2 linked regions of the Homo sapiens genome follow. The protein of the gene in region 1 interacts with the protein of each later gene in a pairwise test. Each region holds a gene or a part of one and is shown in the gene's direction. Other genes may lie near its edges.

Region 1 (6,884 bases):
ATCCTTAGAATCTCTGAAGAGATCTTTTTGTATGCTAATGAAATGACAGGTGGCCGGCAGCTCCTAGGTCGCTTCAGGATGAGAGCTGGTCGCCAGAAAGTTCCAGGCAGAATTAGAGTGTTGGGACTTTCAGTCTCATCCCCTAATCTCTAAGGCTGAAGACTAAGTTCATCACCAGTGGTCATAGTTTAATCAATCATGCCTGCGTAATGAAGTCTCCATAAAAGCTCCAAATGGACAGGGTTCAGACAGCTTCAGGATAGCCCAACACAAGGAGGCTCCTGGAGGATAGTGTGCCCAGGGTGGGCTTCCATGCCCCTTCCCATACCTTTCCGTATGCATCTCTTCATCTGTATCGCCTTTAATACCTTTATAATAAACTGGCACACATAAGTAAGTGTTCTTCTGAGTTCCATGAGCCACTCCAGCAAATTAATCGAACTTAAGGAGGGAATCCTAATGTATAACCAGTTGGTCAGAAGCACAGGTAAAATAACATGGGGCTTTCAACTGGCCCCAAGCCCCAGCCTGAAGTTGTAGGGGAACAGTCTTGTGGACTGGGCCCTCCACCCTTGGGATCTCATGCTGGGTTGGGGTAGATAGTATTAGAACTGAATTGAATAAGAGGTCATCTAGTTGGTGTCCTCTGCAGAATTAAGTGACTGCTTGCTTGGTGAGGAAACTCCCCACATATTAGGTTAGAAGTCTTTTGTGTTGATTGCTACTGAGTGACAGAATAGAAAAAGCACTTTGAGTGTGTTTCTTCAACACATGTTACCCTTAATCTTCCTGCTGAACCCCCATGCAAAGGACCAGGCTGACCTGAACAATTGGGTATATCAAAGGGCACACATGAAGAAGAGGCAGAAGGAAATCATGAAGGCATGCAATGCGCCGGATCAAGCTACCTTTTGGGAAAAACAGAGCATTTGAGGTGTCAGGGGTAAGGGGACTCTCTGAAGGTACACTCTGAAGATACAGAATAAGTAGAGTGGACTTGGGATCCTAAACCCAGCGGAAAGTGAAGAGAAAGGGTAGAGAAATGATTTATGCATGGGTGGAGCAAGAGAGCAGAACTTGAAGCCAGGCCCTGTATTGGCACTAATTTGCTGTGTGACCTTAGGCAAGAGACCTTATTCCTCTGGGTCTCAGTTTTCTTTTCTCTTTTTTTTTTTTTTTTTTTTGAGACGGAGTTATGCTCTTGTCACTCAGGCTGGAGCGCAATGGCATGACCTCGGCTAACTGCAACCTCTGCCTCCTGGGTTCAGGCAATTCCCCTGCCCTGGCCTCCCAAGTAGCTGGGATTACAGGCATGCGCCATCATGCCTGGCTGACTTTGTAATTTTTAAAGTAGAGATGGGGTTTCATCATGTTGGTCAGGTGGTCTCAAACTCCTGACCTCAAGTGATCTACCCTCCTTGGCCTCCCGAAGTGCTGAGATCACAGGCGTGAGCCACGGTGCCCAGCCTCAGTTTTCTCGTGTATAAAAATTAAAGGGAAAAGGGATAAGTTGATTTCTAAGGGTTTTCCCAACTCTAACATCCTGTGGATCCAATTACAAGTTCTTAGAGCTTCCTATATCATGTGTATAGACACAGGTATCCAGGAAGGGAAGGAAAGAGAGAGGGTGTCTCTGAGTCGCTGACAGGGCACATGGAAGCCTAGAAAACCCAGGAAGACTGAGGCTGATCCTGTCTCAGACACAGAAGCTGTAGCGGGTGTTCTAAAGACCTAAGTAAGCATCCTGCTTGTCCTATCTCCCCTATTTGAATTTAAGCCCCAGGAGGACAAAGCTTACTCTCTGGAATCTCCGCGTTTTAGACTTACAAGTGTCTTTAAAGGTCATCTCATCTCAATCCCTTACCCCAAAATGGGAATTCTCTGTATCCTACCACTGAAAGACGGCCCCCACACCTGTGCGTATTTGCCCTTCCACATAATTTACAGAGTGGAGGGCAGAGTTTGATAATCCCTTCATGCAGCTGACCTCCTGCCTCAGGACCCAGGAAATCTCCCTACGGTTCCTCTGACACTGGCTCCAGTGTGCCAGCCTGGAACCTGAAATGCCATTCTCAGCTTCTCTTCAGGGAGTGAGGTGGGCGGACACATGGCAGGTTTTGGAGTCACACAGACCCGGGTTCAAGTCTCACTTCCACTGCTCGTTAACTGAGGGGATTTGGACAAAGTACCCCAGCTTTCTGTGCAGTTAACCTGCAAAACTCCAAGAATAATCCTTCGCGGGACTGGTGAGGATACATGGGGTGTAGGAGATGAGCATTAAACACGTGCTCCCCTACGCTGCTCCTAACCTCCCTGTCTCCACCTGGGTGTGAGCATCTGTGGGGGCAGGAATTGTTTCTTAGCTACAGGATACTCTTTTCCCAGTGCCAAAAACAGTGCTTTTGTGTCCGGAATTGGTGGGTTCTTGGTCTCACTGACTTCAAAAATGAAGCCACCGACCCTCATGGTGAGTGTTACAGCTCATAAAGGCACAGTGCCCAGAGTTTGTTCCTTCTGATGTTCGGATGTGTTCTGAGTTTCTTCCTTCTGGTGGGTTTATTGTCTTGCTGGCTCAAGAGTGAAGCTGCAGACCTTCCGGGTGAGTGTTAACAGCTGATAAAGGCAGAGCAGACCCAAACACTGCGCAGCAGCAAGATTCATTGCAAAAACCAAAAGAACAAATCTTCCACCACGTGGAAGGGGACCCGAGCCGGTTGTCAGTGCTGGCTGGGGCAGCCTGCTTTTATTCTCTTATCTGGCCCCACCCACATCCTGCAGATTGGTCCATTTTACAGAGAGCCAATTGGTCTGTTTTACAGAGAGCTGATTGGTCCGTTTTGACAGGGTGCTGATTGGTGCATCCACAAACCCTGAGCTAGACACAGGGTGCTGATTGGTGCATTTACAAACCTTGAGCTAGATACAGAGTGCCCATTGGTGTATTCACAATCCCTTAGCTAGACATAAAGGTTCTCCAAGTCCCCACTAGACTCAGGAGCCCAGCTGGCTTCACCCAGTGGATCCCGCCCCGGGGGCAGCAGGTGGAGCTGCCTGCCAGTCCTGCGTGTGTGCCCGCACTTCTCTGCCCTTGGGCGGTCGATGGGACCAGGCACCATGGAGCAGGGGGTGGCACTCGTCGGGGAGGCTTGGGCCATGCAGGAGCCCAGGGTGGGGAGACTCAGGCATGGCGGGCTGCAGGTCCCGAGCCCTGCCCCACAGAGAGGCAGCTAAGGCCCAGCGAGAAATCGAGCTCAGTGCCGGTGGGCCGGCACTGCTGGGGGACCTGGCGCACCCTCCGCAGCTGCTGGCCCAGGTGCTAAGCACTTCACTGCCCAGGGCTGGGGGCCTGCCGGCCGCTCCGAGTGCAGGGCCCGCCAAGCCCACGCCCACCCAGAACTCTAGCTGGCCTGCAAGCCCTGCATGCAGCCCCGGTTCCTGCCCGTGCCTCTCCCTCCACATCTCCCAGCAGGCTGAGGGAGCCGGTTCTGGCTTTGGCCTACCCAGGAAGGGGCTCCCACAGTGCAGTGGCTGGCTGAAGGGCTCCTCCAGCGCGGCCAGAGTGGGCACCGAGGCCGAGGAGGCTCCGAGAGCGAGCGAGGGCTGCGAGGGCTACCAGCATGCTGTCACCTCTCACTTTGCCTATTATAAAAAATGAGAGAGAGAAAATAAAAGCGAATTTATATGTGACCCCAGAATCTAGAACAGAGCTCTTTATCTCTCTCTCAGCAAGGCCTATTAACTAACACAGTTTTGCTGCTGTCTGTTTTCAGAACAAAGACTTGTTCTGTGTACTCAGACAGTCTAAAATGAAGGTTGAAAAAAACAGCTCATGTCCATACACAGAAACAGAAACTGAACCGAACACCGAAACTGAAACTGTTTGTCTCTTCCTGAGAAACGAGCAAACCTGAAAGCTACTCTCTCAGCTTCAGAGGGAAAAAATGGTTGTAGATTTCTGGACTTGGGAGCAGACATTTCAAGAACTAATCCAAGAGGCAAAACCCCGGGCCACATGGACGCTGAAGTTGGATGGCAACCTTCAGCTAGACTGCCTGGCTCAAGGGTGGAAGCAATACCAACAGAGAGCATTTGGCTGGTGAGTGTGGGTTTCCCAGGCAATAGCTCTTCTGAGAAGAGAGGCTCAGGCTCAGCTTAGCATGATTTATTCCTCTGAGAGCTTGTTGAAGGAGTAAATGTCACCAGGGCCTCCATCCTATTGTGGTCATAGTACTCTTTAGGGTCGACATGATAAGACGACTCCAAACCTCCATTTTGTTTAACTGCTGGAAGTTTCTTCTTTTACTAGGTTTCCCTCCGTAAATATTTCTGGAAAACCCTGGAGAAGGCTCCCTATTCCATAAATTTTCCCTTCTAGTTTCTCACCACGTCATTTGTTCCAGACTACCTCTAGAGTCTTTTGCAGTCTCCCCAGCAGTCCTGACCAGCTTCCCCCAGCTGCACCAGCTCTCCAAGCCTTGGCACTGTTCAGTACAAGCCTGGGACGGAGCCTTTTTTTTTTTTTTAAATATCTTAAGAATTGGCTAAGATCAAGCAGTTACTCTGAACATTGCTTTACTGAAGGCCTGGGGATAATAGTATAGAATGATGTTGCAAAAACTAAATCTAAAACCCAGTTCATGGAGTCACCAAGTAATACTCCTCCCTTACTCACCACTTCCCTCTTTAACCCCCAGCAAGCCTCCAGGTTGCAGGAACCAGTTTCCTTGACCATGTTAGGAGGGTGAGAATTGCTGACCTGGATAATCAAATTTATTTTTAAATGACACACAGGACCTTCGGTATAGTTTTCATCTGACCTATTACTCAGCTTGCCTGCCTGCCCCATCCTGCCTCAGGTATGGCCTACTCCATTCCTTATGGACTATTAGCTATGCCATGCATCTTCAGACTTCCACACTCTTGTTCATGGAGTTCTGCTTGTTCAGCAGACCCTCCCCTCACCCCTCCCTGCTCATCCTTCAAGGCCCACTCTAGTGCCTCCTCCTCCTAAAAGCATTCTCTGGTTCTCCTAGGCAGAGTAAGTATTCCTTCGTATACATTCCCATAAGATAATGGGATAAGATAAAATATATATGTATATGTATACATAAATGATATATAATTATATATACATATGTACTATGTATTTCAGAATAATAAATTTATAAATAATATATGTATTATTATATATTGTATCAAATACAGTATATGCTTATTTTTAGCTGCAGAATCTGTTGTTTAAATAAAGCCTCCTAAACGTCTCCAGAACAGTTCTCAAGTCACTTGTCAGAGCCCGTATAGCAGTCATGTTGCTCTGCTTTCTAATCCAGGGAAATGTGTAAATATTTCTGTCCACACCAGCCAGAGCTTTTTGAGGGACTCATGATGTCTTACAACGTTTTGGCACTCCTCCAAACAGAAAGAAGGTGTTTCTCCTGTTGGGATGATTTGATTTGATTGTCATTTCGAGATCGGAAAAGCAACCTACCAGTGTACTTTTGGAAAATATCAATCAGCTTTTGAAAAGCATTTTGTAGTTTACAAAGTGTTTTCACATACATCGTCTCTTTTGATGCTGCCAATATAACCCTTGAATTTTTTTTTTATGGATTCAAACAATGAGGGTTATAGAAGGGAAGGGCTTTGCCCAAGGTCTTCCTGATGTAAACTGGATCTTCAACCCAGGTATGAGGGATGCAGTCTGTTTCTCCAGGTGTGAGAGATTAGCTACACTACTCACCAGAGGCAACGTGTTACAGCAGGTAAATGAGTTGAATTTCAGATGGCCTGAGATTAGCAGCATGCCTCTAACATTTACCCTGTGTGTCCTTAAGCAGGTTGCGTATCCTTTTCATGATTCAGTTTCCTTATCTGGATATTGGGTTTAATAGTGCTTACTTCACAGATGAAATGGGATAAAATTATAAAGACCAATTATATTGTATGCATCAAAATAGATACTTTACCAAAGCTTTCTATGACCAAAATTAGGAATAAGTTTCTCTGGAAGATGGCAGACATGATTTTCCCTCAGAGGCATCTGGAGATGTTTTACTAGCAAAGAGGTAGACTTGGGTGTAACATATGGGTGGATACTCAGTAGGTCACAGGAAAAAGCCTTATCTGAAACATAGTCCTTCTTGTTCCTGTTTATCAATGACTGGGACAATCTAAATCACATGCATTTTTTCAAATGGAAAAGGATGTTAGTGACAGGGGCCAAGACCATTTTCCCTCAGGTTAACAACCAGATGAAGGCATAATGGGTGTCTTCCTTCTGACTGCAGGTTCCGGTGTTCCTCCTGCCAGCGAAGTTGGGCTTCCGCCCAAGTGCAGATTCTGTGCCACACGTACTGGGAGCACTGGACATCCCAGGGTCAGGTGCGTATGAGGCTCTTTGGCCAAAGGTGCCAGAAGTGCTCCTGGTCCCAATATGAGATGCCTGAGTTCTCCTCGGATAGCACCATGAGGATTCTGAGCAACCTGGTGCAGCATATACTGAAGAAATACTATGGAAATGGCACGAGGAAGTCTCCAGAAATGCCAGTAATCCTGGAAGTGTCCCTGGAAGGATCCCATGACACAGCCAATTGTGAGGCATGCACTTTGGGCATCTGTGGACAGGGCTTAAAAAGCTGCATGACAAAGCCGTCCAAATCCCTACTCCCCCACCTAAAGACTGGGAATTCCTCACCTGGAATTGGTGCTGTGTACCTCGCAAACCAAGCCAAGAACCAGTCAGCTGAGGCAAAAGAGGCTAAGGGGAGTGGGTATGAGAAATTAGGGCCCAGTCGAGACCCAGATCCACTGAACATCTGTGTCTTTATTTTGCTGCTTGTATTTATTGTAGTCAAATGCTTTACATCAGAATGATGAAAATAGGC
Region 2 (6,175 bases), on another chromosome or scaffold:
CTGGCTAGCACGGTGAAACCCCGTCTCTACTAAAAATACAAAAAATTAGCCAGGCGTGGTGGCGGGTGCCCATAGTTCCAGCTACTGGGGAGGCTGAGGCAGGAGAATGGCGTGAACTCAGGAGGTGTAGCTTGCAGTGAGCCGAGATCGCGCCACTGCATTCCAGCCTGGGCGACAGAGAGAGACTCTGTCTCAAAAATAAATAAATAAATAAATAAATAAATAAATAAATAAATAAATAAATAAATAAAATAAAATAAATAAATTCTTCCTGGGCCAGGACTGACCTCTAAAATAGTTTTTAAAATATTTTAAAGAGAAAATAATCACCTATATATAAAAAAGAGGTGTGAATAAGTTGTAATCCACTCATTCAGATCTACAGAAGGTGGATGTTAGAAATTTAACAGAAGTAAGCAAAATAGAATGAAAACCACTTATTTCCTCTAGGTAACAATCTTGTCTCTGTAATAATATGGATTTAGCCAGTTACTTTATGTTTTTTGTTTGTTGTTTGTTTGTTTTGAGATGGAGTCTCACTCTGTCGCCCAGGCTGAAATGCAGTGGCACCATTGTTTTTGTGAATATTTTTGCTGCTGATGTAACTGCAGAAATTAGTCTAGAACTTGTGGAAGTTGTTAAAACCCTTTCATAAGAGCCCAGTTACTATTGCACAATCTAAGGCATGTAGAGTTAACATACCTAGAATGCACATCAAAATGGTCATTAATCTCATTCATGAGAGGTCTGCCCTCATTACCTCCTAAAGGAACCATCTCTTAATACTGGCACACTGGCAATTAAGTTTCAACATATAGACTTTGGAGGAGACACATGCAGATCACAGCAAAGGGGTTTTTAAATCTTTGCTATGCCTATCACTTGCTTTAGTTCTGTTAATTTTGCTTTATTTATTTTGAGTCACAATTATTAGTCTGATACACCTTCAGGATTGTTAAGTATTTTTGATAAATTGAATATTTTATCATTATACAACTTCCCTCTATTTTTCTACTACTTGTCTTGATAATATAGCCACTTTGAGAATAGAACCAGTCCTGCTTTCTATGGTTACAAATTCCATAGTATAGCTTTTTCTTTCCTTTACATTCAATCTATCTGTGCCTTTATGTTTAATGTTTTATCTTCTAGGCATAACATTTAATTGTGCTTTCATTTATTCATTCTGATGATCTCTATCTTTTCATCAGAGTGTTTAGTCAAATCATGTTTAATGTAATTATCAGTATGGTTGGCTGTAAGTCTTGCATTTTGCTCAATGTTTTTCATTTATCTCACTTATTTTTGTCCCTCTGTCCTTTTTCTGGCTTTCTTTTGTGTTAATTGACTGTATCTTCAATTATTTCATTTTAATCTCACAATTGGCTTTTAAAACTCCATTTGTTATAATGAATTATTCTTTTATATATCGCTGGACTCTATTTTGTTTGGAATTTTTGCATCTATGTTCAGGCTATATTAGCCTGTAATAGTCTTATAAGTATTCTTGATGAAATTTTGTATAAAGTTGTTCACAGTATTGTCTTATAATAAAAGATTATATACAAGGATATGTAACTATATTATATAGTATTATATATATATATATATGTATATGTATATATATATATGTATATATATGTATGTATAGAGAGAGAGAGAGAGAGACAGAGAAAGAGAGAGAGAGAGATGAGGTCTCACTCTGTCACCCAGGCTGGAGTGCAGTGGCCCAATTATAGCTCACTGCAAGTTCAAACTCCTGGGCTCAGGCAATCCTCCTGCTCGGCCTCCCAAGTAGCTGGGACTACAGGTGCACACCACCATGCCCTGCTAAATTATTTTTATTTATTTATTTTTTTTAGTAGAGATAAGGTCTTGCTATGTTTCCCAGGCTGGTCTCAAACTCCTGGACTCAAGTGATTCTCACACCTGGGCCTCCCAAAGTGCTGAAATGACAGGCATTAGCTACCACACCCAGGCCATATTTCTGATATCTCTAAGGACTGTAGTAATTTGTATTTTCTTTTGACCAACATTAGTATATTACTGTACCTAATTCTTTTCTATCGGTGATTTCTGCTGTTACTATAATTTCTTGACTTCTATTTTCTTTCACTCTTAGCTTTCTAGCTTCTTGAGATGAAAACAAAATTCATCTGTTTTTACCCTGCCTTTCTAAAAGATGCATTCAAGGCTACAAATTTCCTTCAAAGAATGGCTTTAATTGGATTATGTAAATTTTAATAGGTCATTTCTTTATTACACGTTGAGTATCCCTAATCCAAAAATCTGAAATTTGAAATGCTCCAAAATCTGAAACTCTTTGAGCGCTGACATGACGCTCAAAGGATATGCTCATTGGAACATTTTGGATTTCAAATTTTTGAATTCGAGATGCTTAATCAGTATGATGCAAATGTTCCAAAACTTAAAAAAAAAGAAAAAAAAATCCGAAATCCAAAGCTCTCTGGTCTCACACATTTCAGATAAGGGATACACAACCTGTATTATTTACTTAAAAATATTTTTGTAATTTTTGTTATTTCTTCTTTGACTCAAGAGTATTTACAGGTTTTTTGTCTTAGTAAATTGTTTCTTTCTCTAGTTATCTTTTTATTATTGAACTTCATTTTATTCCTTTGAATTCAGAGAACATTCAACACTTGTGAGATATTCTTTTGGATTCATGATCAGTCTTGGTAAAAATAGTCTATGTGCACTTGAAAAGAATATGAATTATTTTACCGTTGAACACAAGTTTGTCAATTGTTTTTTCATGTATTTTCCATCTATTGATTTTTGGTGTTTCTAAGATGAGTTATTGAGTTATGTATTTTACAGTCTTTCATTGTGATTGTAGATTTGTCTTATTTTTCCTTTTCTGTAAATGTTTGGTAGATTATTTGGTTCATAAATTTTTGGGATTACCCTACCTTTCTGTAGATTTGAGCATTTTTATCACTATAAAGTACACTCCCCATTTCTTCTCTAATGCTGCTTCTTACCTTAAAGTCTGCTTTATAGAATATTGTTATAATTATGCCAGATTTCTTTTGGATGATGTTTGCATGGCTTATTTTTCCATAATTTTACTTTAAAGTTTTCCTTTTCTATATTTAAATTGTGTTTCTTGTAAGCAGTATACAGTCAGAGTTTTAAATTCTTCTTTGTTACTATTAATTTTTTACTTGGAGTATTTAGTTCATTTACATTTTATATAATTATATTCTCCATTTCTAGAAGTTTTTTCCCCAAATGTTCCAATTTCTTTCTAACAGTCTCTTGCTGCTCTTCTCTGAAATTGCATCTTGTTTTTTGTAAACAGTGTATACATTAGCTAATTTATCTATACATATTCTTATCTGTCAATTTCAGTATGTGCAGCCCATGAGAATTTAAGTTTTCTACTTGCTTTTGGTTGGTTTGTTTTGTTTTGCTATCATTTGTAGTCTATTCCTAAGCTTAATTTAACTTCATTTTGAAATCATTGTGCAATTTTATTTATGGTAGTCATGCCAGGATAAGTGAGAGAAGGTCTTCTTTTCTCCAAAGCTTAGTTTATTCATATTTAATGTAAATACAAAAATAGCCCCTCTTTTAAAGGATTGAAGGCTTGTGAAATTAAGATGAGAAAAAGATACTTAACATAGCGCTAGGAATATAATAAAAGCTCAATAAATGTTAGATTTCACTTTTAATTTCACTTTTAATTCTTAGATCAGTATGTTGATTTACTTAATTGTTTCCCACCTCCCTCATTAGAATATACACTCCATAAATCACACAAGTTTTGAAATTCTGTCTACCACTATATTCCCTCAAAGATCAAAAGAGAGCTTGTTGTATCTAGACATTCAGTAAATACTTGTTGGATAAATGAATGGGTGCCAGCAAACAGTAATGTGTTAAATGAAGAGATTATTCCTAAGAGCCTTTCATGTCAAGGGTAGTCAACATAATCTTCTGCATTCAAGGGTGTAATAACCATAAGTATAAAACAACAGCAACAGATTTGTGACATATTTGTGAAACTTGTCATACCTAGAGTTGAGCTTAAATTTTAATTAAAAATTAAATCGATCATTTAGAGTAAGTATCTACAGTGGCTAAATTTGTTTTTCATTTCTATATAGTATTTTCTGTACATATATAAATTGATTATAAATGACATAAATAATGATTTGATATTTTAAAAGATAAAGTCAAAATTTTTGTTTCTGTTTTGCATTACATTCTATAGGTATATGTTTGGCACTCCTCCTCCACAATTCAATTTATTAAATGCAAAATAGTCTCAGGAGGACATGTAAAATCCATGAAACAGAAACTTTCATTTGCATTTTAACAAATTATAGATAGGCATTCAGTCTGAACATACATTCTCCAGACTAGCTATGTTTTGTAGACATATTTGGAAAGGTCTTCATTAAGAAATTTCTGATTCCATCTCAAGCCATTACTGGGGCAATTTCAAGTCTTTATATAATGAAAGAGAAGAAAGTCACACTTCCGTCGAGCAGCCAATATATGCCTCATTCTGCAGCAGGTAATCTAAGATAGATGTAACAGAAGCAATATTAAGAATTAGCAGATATGCTACGTGTAGTGGAAGGCATCTTCATTTTTGTTGTAGTTAGTGAGTCAGTGTTTGGGGTTTTGGGGAATGGATTTATTGGACTTGTAAACTGCATTGACTGTGCCAAGAATAAGTTATCTACGATTGGCTTTATTCTCACCGGCTTAGCTATTTCAAGAATTTTTCTGATATGGATAATAATTACAGATGGATTTATACAGATATTCTCTCCAAATATATATGCCTCCGGTAACCTAATTGAATATATTAGTTACTTTTGGGTAATTGGTAATCAATCAAGTATGTGGTTTGCCACCAGCCTCAGCATCTTCTATTTCCTGAAGATAGCAAATTTTTCCAACTACATATTTCTCTGGTTGAAGAGCAGAACAAATATGGTTCTTCCCTTCATGATAGTATTCTTACTTATTTCATCGTTACTTAATTTTGCATACATTGCGAAGATTCTTAATGATTATAAAACGAAGAATGACACAGTCTGGGATCTCAACATGTATAAAAGTGAATACTTTATTAAACAGATTTTGCTAAATCTGGGAGTCATTTTCTTCTTTACACTATCCCTAATTACATGTATTTTTTTAATCATTTCCCTTTGGAGACACAACAGGCAGATGCAATCGAATGTGACAGGATTGAGAGACTCCAACACAGAAGCTCATGTGAAGGCAATGAAAGTTTTGATATCTTTCATCATCCTCTTTATCTTGTATTTTATAGGCATGGCCATAGAAATATCATGTTTTACTGTGCGAGAAAACAAACTGCTGCTTATGTTTGGAATGACAACCACAGCCATCTATCCCTGGGGTCACTCATTTATCTTAATTCTAGGAAACAGCAAGCTAAAGCAAGCCTCTTTGAGGGTACTGCAGCAATTGAAGTGCTGTGAGAAAAGGAAAAATCTCAGAGTCACATAGACACCTTGGGAAGAGATGGATGTTCCACGAAAGGAATCCAGTGAATAAATCCTTGAAGATCTGTTTCATTGCACTGCATTCTTGCATTGTCTTTTTAACTGTGTCATTAAAGATCACTGAAATCTTCCATAATTGTTTTGACTATGTTTCAGGGAATCTCAGTCTTTGAGGAGATTTTAATCTCACATGCAAATTCAGTGGCTTAGTCAGCTTCCCCACCCTGCAACTTCTTCCTACAAACTTCCTAGAGGAAGACCATCAGCCTGGAGACTATTCGCTGTAAAGATTATAACGGTGAGAATAAGCTCTAAAATAAAACTTCTTGTTGTGCTTTACCTGACTTTTCTGAAGCAAGGACACCCATTCTCCCAGAAAACCCAAAGGAAAAAAAAGAAAGAAAGAAAATTAGATCAATCTTGACATTTAGAACATGGAAGTGAGGATAGATGGTGGTACTTCTTTACAGAATGCTATTTTAATTATTTAAAGGTTTTTTTTTCATTTTTTAGAATCTAACATCCTTTTTTACTGGTGTACGATGTGTAGCAAGTAGTCAGAGGAGTAGATGTAGTTCTGTGAAATATAGTTAGGGAAACAAGGGTCTAGTTGAGGGATATGGGATCAAAACACTGATGAAATAAATATGCTCTTCAAAATC

What was found. The genes of interacting proteins can lie anywhere in the genome.
Region 2: the proteins of RTP4 (region 1) and TAS2R10 interact in binary tests that used the Homo sapiens proteins (3 or more experiments, as listed by UniProt).

Annotation. Positions count from the first base shown.
Region 1 is NC_000003.12:187,364,501-187,371,384, forward strand, and holds the start of RTP4 (receptor-transporting protein 4), read left to right. Parts: upstream 1-3,884; 5' UTR 3,885-3,941; coding exon 3,942-4,096; intron 4,097-6,287; coding exon 6,288-6,873; 3' UTR 6,874-6,884. UniProt on the Homo sapiens protein: Chaperone protein that facilitates the trafficking and functional cell surface expression of some G-protein coupled receptors (GPCRs). Promotes functional expression of the bitter taste receptor TAS2R16.
Region 2 is NC_000012.12:10,824,688-10,830,862, reverse strand, and holds TAS2R10 (taste receptor type 2 member 10), read left to right. Parts: upstream 1-4,504; 5' UTR 4,505-4,593; coding exon 4,594-5,517; 3' UTR 5,518-5,644; downstream 5,645-6,175. UniProt on the Homo sapiens protein: Gustducin-coupled strychnine receptor implicated in the perception of bitter compounds in the oral cavity and the gastrointestinal tract. Signals through PLCB2 and the calcium-regulated cation channel TRPM5.